Linked DNA regions of Homo sapiens: region 1 is linked to region 2. The links come from fine-mapping of genetic effects on gene expression. A gene starts in region 2. The other region holds a variant in brackets. All regions are shown on one strand. Distances are between the middles of the regions.

Region 1 (5,000 bases), 26 kb before region 2:
GGGTGCGCTAAAATTTCAGACTTCACCACCATACAATTCATCCATGTGTCTAAAAACCACTTGTATTAGTCCATTTCACACTGCTGTAAAGAACTACCTGAGACTCAGTAATTTATGACGAAAAGAGGTTTAATTGACTCACAGTTCCTCAGGCTTAACAGAAAGCATGACTGGGAGGCCTCAGGAAACTTACAATCATGGCGGAAGGTGAAGGGGAAGAAAGGGCCTTCTTCTCATGGTGGCAGGAAAGAGAGAGAAGGTAGAACTGCCACATACTTTTAAACCATCAGATCTCATGAGAACTCACTATCATGAGAAAAGCAAGGGGGAAATCTGCCCCCATGATCCAATCACCTCCCATCAGGACCCTCATCCAATTCAACATGAGATTTGGGCAGGACACAAATCCAAACCATATCAACACTTGTACCCCAAAAGCTATTGAAAATTTTTTGAAGTTTTTAATTTAAAAAAATGTGGCACCCCTGAGGCTGTGGCTCGTTTGAGGAATTCTCCCAAAGGAAATTCCCAAGATATGATCCTGTGTGTGATGCTACAAAAGTACACCGTGATTTGTCCTGCCTTGTGGGTATAGGGACTAATAATGTTCCCAAACAATGCTTTTCCGTTCCAGAGGGATTATACTATTTAAACAAAAAGCAGAAACACAGGGTTGATGGTGTGAAGGAAAGGGAATTTATGAGATTTAACAATCTAGCCAGGTGCGATGGCTCATGCCTGCAATCCCAGCACTTTGGGAGGCCGAGGTCTTTTATCAACAATTTGCTCAAGTCTTCTAAAATAAAAACTATGAAGAAGGAAATCTAAATGTAACCCTGAAGGGCTATAATTTAAGAGATGTGAATCATTTTATACACTAATTCTAACAACTGTCCCTGAAAACTTACCTATGAGGTAATTTCTGTATTATAAGTCCCATGTCATAGAAAAGTGTTCCAATGGAGAGAATCTAGGTAATAAATCATGCCTAAATCTTTAAAATTACATTTTGTCTATAATATATAAAGGTCAATGTTGAACAAAATAAATATATGACAGTAATTATAGTGAATATTTTGATATTTATGCCTTTTAATGACATGAAGAAAGATAACACAATGTTTTTAAAGTCTAACAATTCTTTCACCAGAATGTTTAATAGGAATAATTCATGGCTTTCTCTGACTAATCAGATCCTGCCTTTTTAATGAAAATTCTAAGCCTTGAAAAGAGAGCAAGCTGACATAAACTAAAAAGATGGAGAATGTGAATTTACAATGGTTAAAACTCAGCAATTCATGAGCAACTTGAGAAGTACATTTATTAGAGCTCATAAAATAGTAAGCAATAACAGGGAGTGTGTATACTGAAACAAACAGCCAAAGAGATTGAAAGAAATGTAGTCACAGGCTCTTCTGGCACAAATTCATTGCCTTTATTCTGATGAGCTTCTCTTCATGGGATTTACGGACACTGAATTATATCCAGACTCTGCTAACTTCTTGGTTTTCTCCCTCCTATCGCCTAATGACTCTTTAAGCTACTACATGAGTCTAATCCATGGGCATCCTGAGCTTCACAAATTCACGTCGCACCCAGCGAGAAACCCACCGTCTTCACTGAGTCATTCAAAGCTTCCCACTGCTGGAATGGCATCGACATCTGGCTCCTTCGCCAGTGGTCATAGCGGGCTCGACTCTCTTCATTGGTCAGAATCTCCTTTGCCTTCTGCAGTTTCTGAAAAGTCTCCACTGGAAAACAAATCAAGAAATGAGCACTTCTCTCTCGGAGAGGATATTTTAAACTCCAAAACTATCCAACTGCTCTTACTAAAACCATGACTGCCACTTAATAGCTATGTGACCTTGGGCCAATTTACCTCATTAAGCTTTTGTAAAGGGTATCATAAGGACAAGCAAGATCATGGATGTAAAGTGCTCGGCACAGTTTATCCACTCCCTGTATTGTGCCTCAGTCATGTGCCAGAGGCTACTCCCGGTGCTGATGACACAGATGTGAATAATAGACATTATTAGCAGGGGAAAGAAACATTTGTAAACATTGAAAAAATACTATTCCACCTTATAGGAAGAAAACTACCTTTTTTAGTGCTGGGTGTGAAACAGGGCAGTAATTAGGCAAGAGGGACAGTAAAACTGAAGACTATAAAGACTATAAAACTGAAGACTATAAAGACTATAAAGACATGACTGAGGCACAATACAGGGAGTGGATAAACTGTCCCAAGCACTTTACATCCATGATCTTGTTTGTCCTTATAAAGCAGGAAGGAGCACGGTGACTTAGAGGAAGTAGTAATTGCCAGTGTGGCTGGAGGACACAAGGCTAGGGAAAGAACGATGAGGGATGGGGCTGTAGAGTAGACAGACAATAGCTCAATCAACCAGGGCCTGAGATGTCATGTTAAGGATGCTGGCCTGCTTTTTGTCGTAAGAGAAACGGGAGGCTTTAAGTATAATAAATAACATGGTAGATGCTGGGACAAATGGTAGCTTGTCACTAATCTACTTGACCAGATGGTATATAATAGAAACCTTTTATGGCTCTGTTAGAAACACCTCCAAAGTCTCTTCTGCTCCTCAGTGAAGTAAAAACTTTCTGCAGAGCAGAATACAAGATTTATATACAGGCCGGGTGCAGTGGCTCAGGCCTGTAATCCCGGCACTTCGGGAGGACAAGGTGGGTGGATCACGAGGTCAGGAATTCAAGACCCAGCCTGGCCAAGATGGTGAAACCCCATCTCTGCTAAAAATACAAAAAAAAAAAAAAAAATAGCTGGGGGTGGTGGCAGGCGCCTGTATTCCCAGCTACTCGGGGGCTGAGGCAGAGAATTGCTTGAACCTGGGAGGCAGAGGTTGCAGTGAGCCGAGATTGTGCCACTGGACTCCAGCCTGGGCGACAGAGC[G/A]AGACTCCATCTCAAAAAAAAAAAACAAAAAAAAGTAGCCAGGCACGGTGGCCCAGGCCTGTAATCCCAGCTACTCAGGAGCCTGAGGCAGGAGAATCGTTGGAACCCGTGAGGCAGAGCTTACAGTGAGCCGAGTTTGCACCACTGCACTCCAGCCTGTCCGACAGAGCAAGACTCCATCTCAAAACAAACAAACAAAAATTCATATGTTGAATTCTTAACTCCCAAAATGATAGTATTAGGAGATGGGGCTTTTGAGATATGATTAGATCATGAGGGTGGAACCCTCACGAATGGAATCAGTGCCCTAATAAAAGAAACCCAGACAACTCGCTCACTCTGTTTCCCCCATGTGAAAACACAGCAAGAAGACAATTAGCTAGGCATGGCGGTGGGCGCCTGTAATCCCAGCTATTTGGGAGGCTGAGGCAGAAGAATCTCATGAATCTGGGAGGTAGAGGTTGCAGTGAGCCAAGATCACACCACTGCACTCCAGCCTAGATGACAGAGCGAGACTCCGTCTCCAAAAAATAAAAAATCAATATACAAATATCAGTGGTGTCTCTACACAGTAGCAATGAACAATCTGAAAATGAAATTAAGAAAATTCCATTTATAAGAGCATCAAGAGCCGGACCCAGTGGCTCATGCCTGTAATCCCAGCACTTTGGGAGTCCGAAGTGGGCGGATCACGAGGTCAGGAGTTCGAGACCAGTCTGGCCAACATGGTGAAACCCCGTCTCTACTAAAAATACAAAAAAAAAAAAAAATTAGTTGGGTGTGGTGGCAGGCGCCTGTAATCCCAGCTACTCAGTAGGCTGAGGCAGGAGAATCACTTGAACCTGGGAGGCGGAGGTTGCAGTGAGCTGAGACCATGTCATTACACTCCTGCCTGGGTGACAGAGCAAGACTCTGTCTCAAAAGAAAAAAAAAAAAGCTTCAAGAAGAATATAATATTTTTAAAAAATTGAACAAAAGAAGGAACTACACAATATTGTCAAAAGAAGCTAAAGAAGATCTAAATAAATGAAAAGACATCCCACGTTCATAAAGATTTACTATTGCTAAAATGATAATACCCCCCAAACTGATCTGCAGATTCAACATAATCTCTATCAAAATCCCAGTTGCCTTTTTTGCAGAAATTGACAATCTAGTCCTAAAATCTGTTTGCAAATACAAGGGACCCAGAATTGCCAAAAAAAAAAAAAACTCTTGAAAAAAATAAGAGCAAAGTTGGAGAATTCACACTTCTGAATTTCAAAACTTATACTACAAAGCTACAGTAGTGAAAACAGTGTGGTACTAACATAAGGATAGACATACTTATAAATGGAATAGAATTGAGAATCCAGAAACAAACCCTTACATTTACAGTCAATTGATTTCAACAAGAGTGCCAAGACAATTTAATGAAGAAAAAAAATAGTCTTTTCAACAAATGGTGCTAGGATAACTAAATATCAATATATAAAAAGCATGAATTTAGATTTCTACCTTAAGCTATAAACAAATATTGACTCAAATGGATCACAGATCCAAATGTAAGGGTTAAAACCATAAAAAACTGGGAAAAAAAAAACATAGGAATAAATCTTTGTGACCTCAGCTTAGGCAAGAGCTCCTTAGATATGACACCAAAAGCACAAGCAACAAAAGAAGAAATAGATAAATTGGACTACATCAAAATTAAAACTTTTGTGCCTCAAAGAATACCATGAAGAAAGTGAAATGACAAACCATGGAATGGGAAAAAATATCTGCAAATAATATATCTGATAAGGTACTTATATCTAGAATTTATAGAGAACATTTACAACTCAATAATAAGACAAATAACCCAAATGCAAAATGGACAAAGGGCTTGAATGAACATTTCTCCAAAGAAGATATACAAATAGCCAACAAGCACCTGAAAATATCCTGAACAGTATTAGTCCTTCAGGAAATACAAATCAAAACCATAGTGAGATACCACTTTATACCTACTAGGATGGCTAAAATTAAAGGATAATAATTGTCTAGAATGTGAAAAAATTGGAACTGTCACACATGACAGGTGGGAATGTAAAGT
Region 2 (5,525 bases):
GCTACTCAGGAAGCTGAGGAAGGAGAATCACTTGAACCTGGGAGGCGGAGGTTGCAGTGACCTGAGATTGCACCACTGCACTCCAGCCCGGCAACAGAGTGAGACTCCATCTCAAAAAAACAAAAAAAAGAGAGAAAAAATGACACACACACACACACACACACACACACACATATATATAAAGAAGTGACAATATTATGACAAACATTTCATTAAAAATAAATAATTGTTATCTAGATATGATATGCCATTGACAGACCAGTAAAATACATCCAGTAAAAGGAATGTTGAGACAAGGAAGTATGACTCCACCTGGTAACCATATTTTGAATATTACACATTAACAACGAGATTATTTTCTGTAAGGCTGTCCAAAATGAATCCTCCTTCTATGTAGATTGAAAAGACAACAGCATAACTTCAAAAGACTGACTATGCAGCCATAAAAAAGAATGAGTTCATGTCCTTTGCAGGGACATGGATGAAGCTGGAAACCATCATTCTCAGCAAACTAACACAGGAACAGAAAACCAAACACCACATGTTCTCACTCATAAGTGGGAGATGAACAATGAGAGCACATGGACACAGGCAGGGGAACATCACACACCGGGGCCTGTCGGGGGGTGGGGGAGAAGGGGAGGGACAGCATTAGGACAAATACCTAATGTATGCGGGGCTTAAAACCTAGATGATGGGTTGATAGGTGCAGCAAACCACCCTGGCACATGTGTATCTATGTAACAAACCTGCACATTCTGCACAGGGATCCCAGAACTTAAAGTAAAATTGAAAAAAAAAAAAAAGGACTGACTAAATAGGTCACAAGATTATGGAGATATAATGACCCTTACTGTATAAGCTAGCATGTATTTTTTTAAATCCAAATTGTCAGCCTTATCAAGTTAAATTATATTCCTTTGATTTTAAATTATTCCTTCAAAAATTGTTTGATAATAGTATAATTTCAACTGTGAATAACACATGGTAAAAATGGTAATAAGCTTTCTCAATTGCTATAAGCAAATCACCACCAACATAAACAAGAATAACACATTCTTGAGAAGAAATATGCAACTAAAAGACCATTATAAGCTATTCTGGGGGCGGGGCAGTTTTTTTAATTTCAACGTGTCTAAGATAACTTCCTCAGCATGGCAAAAATAGAGATTTTAATCCTTTGTGTCCAGTAATGCATTCTATTCTTAAAACAAAACTAAGCACATTTTATTAATGAACTACTGCCTTTATGAAACAACAATAAATATAAAAACATTTTGCTTTACAATGTTAATTTTACTACTTAGATTTTAATAAAAATAAATAAAATAAAATACATTAATTATAAAACATAAATATATCCTAATAACATGATTTAATAATATATAATTTAATAATGAATATATTTTATATTAATCTCAACATTATTTGAAATATTGAAAAATTGGAAATAAAATATTTAACAATAAGAGAATAATTCAACTGTGGTAACACAGCAAAATAAAATATTTTGCAACCACTAAAAAGTGTACAAGGAAAGTTTAATAGCATGGAAAATTCCTTGTTATAATACGAATGGGTAAAAAGCAGGAATCAACAAGTACATATAATATCCTCCCAAACAGGTCTTTAAAGAATATACATAGAAAGAATAGTGGAGATTAATATGCCAAAATATTAATACTGTTATCCTTGGGAGAGAGAATTATAAATGATTTTTCCATAATTTAAAAAACCTCTACAACCTTTATAATTGTTTATTGAGAACTTTAAAAATTTTGTTTTCTTACAGATCCAGTGAACAGCTACAGAGTTTTCACATGTTTTGTTTCAGAAGCCACCCTTTCAAGAAGTAATTTCTGTCACACAATTTGAAATATTAACATAAAGGGATGCTTCTTTGTTTCTATTTTGACTGCTCACATAGGAGTACACATTTTAATAAAATATATTAAAATCCCTAATTTTATAAGAAATTTCATTTCACCTCAATTATGAGTCACCATAATAAAGGTATAGCTTATATATACTGTGAAACACTGCCATCAGAAATTACAATAAAATTTCAAATATTTATTTTTAATATACTATATTGTGAAACAGCATATGGCCATGTGCCAGAATACACATATTTAATCAGAAGCTTCCGTAAAATTCCCATAGGACACTATTCAAGTAAAATCCCAACATACATTTAAATTCTTAACTTTCTCTGAGCCAAAAGTGCTTTAAAACAACACAAGGTTAGGTTTGTAGGCAATGTGACTAAAAATTCAAAGTTAAAACCTTAAATAAAAACTTGAAATACTATTGTGAAAAAGAATACTGTTGTGATAAAAATATTATCCACTGTCTTACCGAAGATAGTTCATCACATCCCAGTAATGTGTAGTAATCTTCAGTATCTTCTGACCTGTAATTCAGTATTGCATCCATTTAGATGACTTAATCAGTCCTTCTTCCCTCGGAAACAAGAGGCACAGTGAGCTTCGAATTAACAGGAAGAAACTCTTTAAATCTGAATTAGAGCAGCATGTTCCACATAGCAAAAACTAGCTTTAAGACTGGCCACAGTCAATACACCAGATGTCATCCTAGACCTTTGTAAACTCTGCCTCTCATTGGCTGTTTACAGAGAAGAAAAGAACAGTCCACGTGTCTATTATTGCAGTGCTGCCTGGGATCTGTAGTTTGAGTTTATATAAGAGATGCATGTGAACCATTTGTCTTATGAGTTAATAAAGACTGTCTATTTTCAGAAACTTGCCACATTAGCCACTTCTCCATCTCCTATATATTTTTGTCTCTATCCTTTAAAAAAAAAAAAGAAAAAAAATGTGAAGCAATGTGGTAAAATCTTAGGATGTGTTAATAAGGATAATGGGAGCTTTTCTTAGTGTTTAAAATACTTAATTTTATTTTTTATTTGTTTATTTTCAGACAAGGTCTCACTCTGTTGCCCAGGCTGGAGTGCAGTGGTGCAGTCTCAGCTCACTGCAACCTCTGTCTCCCCAGCTCAAGCGATCCTCCCACCTCAGCCTCCCTAGTAGCTGGGACCACAGGCACATAGCACCATGTCCAGCTAATTTTTGGTTTTTGTTTTGTTATGTTTTAAGAGGAGGGGGTTTTGCCATGTTGCCCAGCCTGGTCTCGAACTCGTGAGCTCAAAGCGATCTGCCTGCTTCGGCCTCCCAACGTGCTGGGATTACAGGCATGATCCACAGCGCCCAGCCAATAACACAGTCTTGATTTTTATGGAGCTTACGCTCTGATGGAGGAAGACAGCTGAAAAACATGCAAAAAAAAAAAAAAAAAAAAAAAACACGATCATTTAAAATAGTGATTTGTAAGCCAGGCATGGTGGCCCACACCTGTAGTCCAGCTACTTGGGAGGCTGAGGCAGAAGAATCACTTGGACCCAGGAGGCAGAGGCTGTAGTGAGCCGAGATGGTGCCACTGCACTCCAGACTGCGCTACAGAGCAAGACTCCATCTCAAAAAATAAAAAAATAAAATAGTGATTTGTGCTTTAGAGAAAATAAAATAGGACAATGAGAAGAACTGTATGATAACTCGGGTCAGATGGCTGTGCTATTTCTCCTGGGTTGGTTCTCCAGACTCAGGAGTGTCTCTAGTCTGAGGTAGGTCCAGGCAATTTATGTTTCAGTTCATTTTGGCCCTAAGAAACACAGTTCAGGTCTGGGATTTAGAGAACAAGGTGAGTGGTCAGGGACACAACACTTTGACTGCCTTAACACTTTTTTTGTTTCATTTTTCAGAGAGACAGGGTCTCGCCATATTGCCCAGATTGGTCTTAAACCCCTGGACTCAAGTGATCCTCCCACTTTGGCCTCCCAAAGTGCTGCGATTACAGATGTGAGCCAACATGCCTGGCCCTTAACACTTTAAATTCCCCCACCTGAGGGGAAAAAATAGTTTTTCTTTTAGCCCACCTATATACATCTTTTTAAAGGTTTATTTCTGAAGAGAAGCAAGAAAAAGCACTGAAACACCATTTTTTACTAATCCTTCATTGTACATGCTGTCTTGCTAAAAGTTCTATATAGAATTTTAAGGCCAGGCACGGTGGCTCATGCCATAATCCCAGCACTGGGAGACCGAGGCGGGCGGATCACGAGGTCGGGGGTTCGAGACCAGCCTGACCAATGTGATGAAATCCTGTCTCTACTAAAAATACAAAAATTAGCCAAGCATGGTGGCACGCACCTGTAGTCCCAGCTACTCAGGATGCTGAGGCAGGAGAATTGCTTGAATCTGGGAGGCGGAGGTTGCAGCGAGCCGAGATCGTGCCACTGGACTCCAGCCTGGGTGACAGAGCCAGGGTCCATCTCAAAAAAAAAAAAAAAAATTAGATCACAATATCTTGATCTAAATCACTGATAAATGGCCTTTTAATGATGTGAAGTTGCCATGGTGGAAAGCAGTATGGTGGTTCCTCAAAAAATTAAACATAGAACTACCATGTGACCCCACAATTCCACTTCTGGGTAAATACACAAAAGAATTGAAAGCAGGAACTTGAAAAGATATTTATATACTCATGTTCATCAAGGCATTAGTCATAATAGCCAAAAAGTGGAGGCAATGCAAGTGTCCATCAACGGATGACTAAACAAATGGAATGTTAGGGCTGGGCATGGTGGCTCACACCTGTAATCCCAGAACTTTGGGAGGCCGAGGCAGGCAGATCACTTGAGGCCAGGAGTTCGAAACCAGCCTGGCCAACATGGCAAAACTTCATCTCTACTGAAAATACAAAAAAGTTAGCTGGGTGTGGTGGCACATGCCTGTAATTTCAGCTACTTGGGAGGCTGAGGCACGAGAATTGCTTGAACCCAGGAGGTGGAGGCTGCAATGAGCTGAGATCACACCACTGCACTCCAGCCTGGGTGACAGAGCACGACCTTGTCTAACACAAACAAACAAAAAAGTGTGGTATTGGCCAGTTGCAGTGGCTTATGCCTGTAATCCCAGCACTTTGAGAGACCAAGGCAGGAGGATTGTTTGAGCCCAGGAGTTCAAAACCAGCCTGCGCAACATAGTGAGACTCTGTCCTTATTTTTATATTAATAATATAATTTTTTTTTTGAGACAGAGTTTCACTCTTGTTGCCCAGGCTGGAGTGCAATGGTGTGATCTTGGCTCACCGCAACCTCCACCTGGGTTCAAGTGATTCTCCTGCCTCAGCCTCCTGAGTAGCTGGGATTACAGGCATGTGCCACCATGCCCGACTAATTTTGAATTTTTAGTAGAGATGGGGTTTCTCCATGTTGGTCAGGCTGGTTTCAAATTCCAGACTTCAGGTGATCCACCCGCCGTGGCCTCCCAAAGTGCTGGGATTAGAGGGGTGAGCCACTGTACCCGGCTTAAAAGTTTTTAAAGTGTGTGGTATCTTCCCCCTGGCTCTCTTACTCCTGTTCTCACCATGTAACATGTCTACTCCCACTTCACCTTCTGCCATAAGTAAAAGCTCCCTGAAGCCTACCCAGAAGCTGAACGGATGCT

What was found. PIP is the estimated chance that this variant, and not a neighbour inherited with it, causes the effect.
Region 1: its variant is fine-mapped to the expression of DNAJC12 in adrenal gland (GTEx, PIP 0.96).

The regions. Positions count from the first base shown.
Region 1 is chr10:67,809,913-67,814,912 of GRCh38, forward strand. It overlaps DNAJC12 (DnaJ heat shock protein family (Hsp40) member C12), which reads right to left. Exons shown (of 5, transcript NM_021800.3): 3 at 1,612-1,751. Among named protein-coding and RNA genes, the nearest start is that of DNAJC12, 26 kb to the right of the region's middle. The variant G/A (reference allele first, on the strand shown) is at 2,927.
Region 2 is chr10:67,835,576-67,841,100 of GRCh38, forward strand. DNAJC12 (DnaJ heat shock protein family (Hsp40) member C12) reads right to left here and starts at 2,613. Exons shown (of 5, transcript NM_021800.3): 1 at 2,359-2,613. The coding sequence starts at 2,436.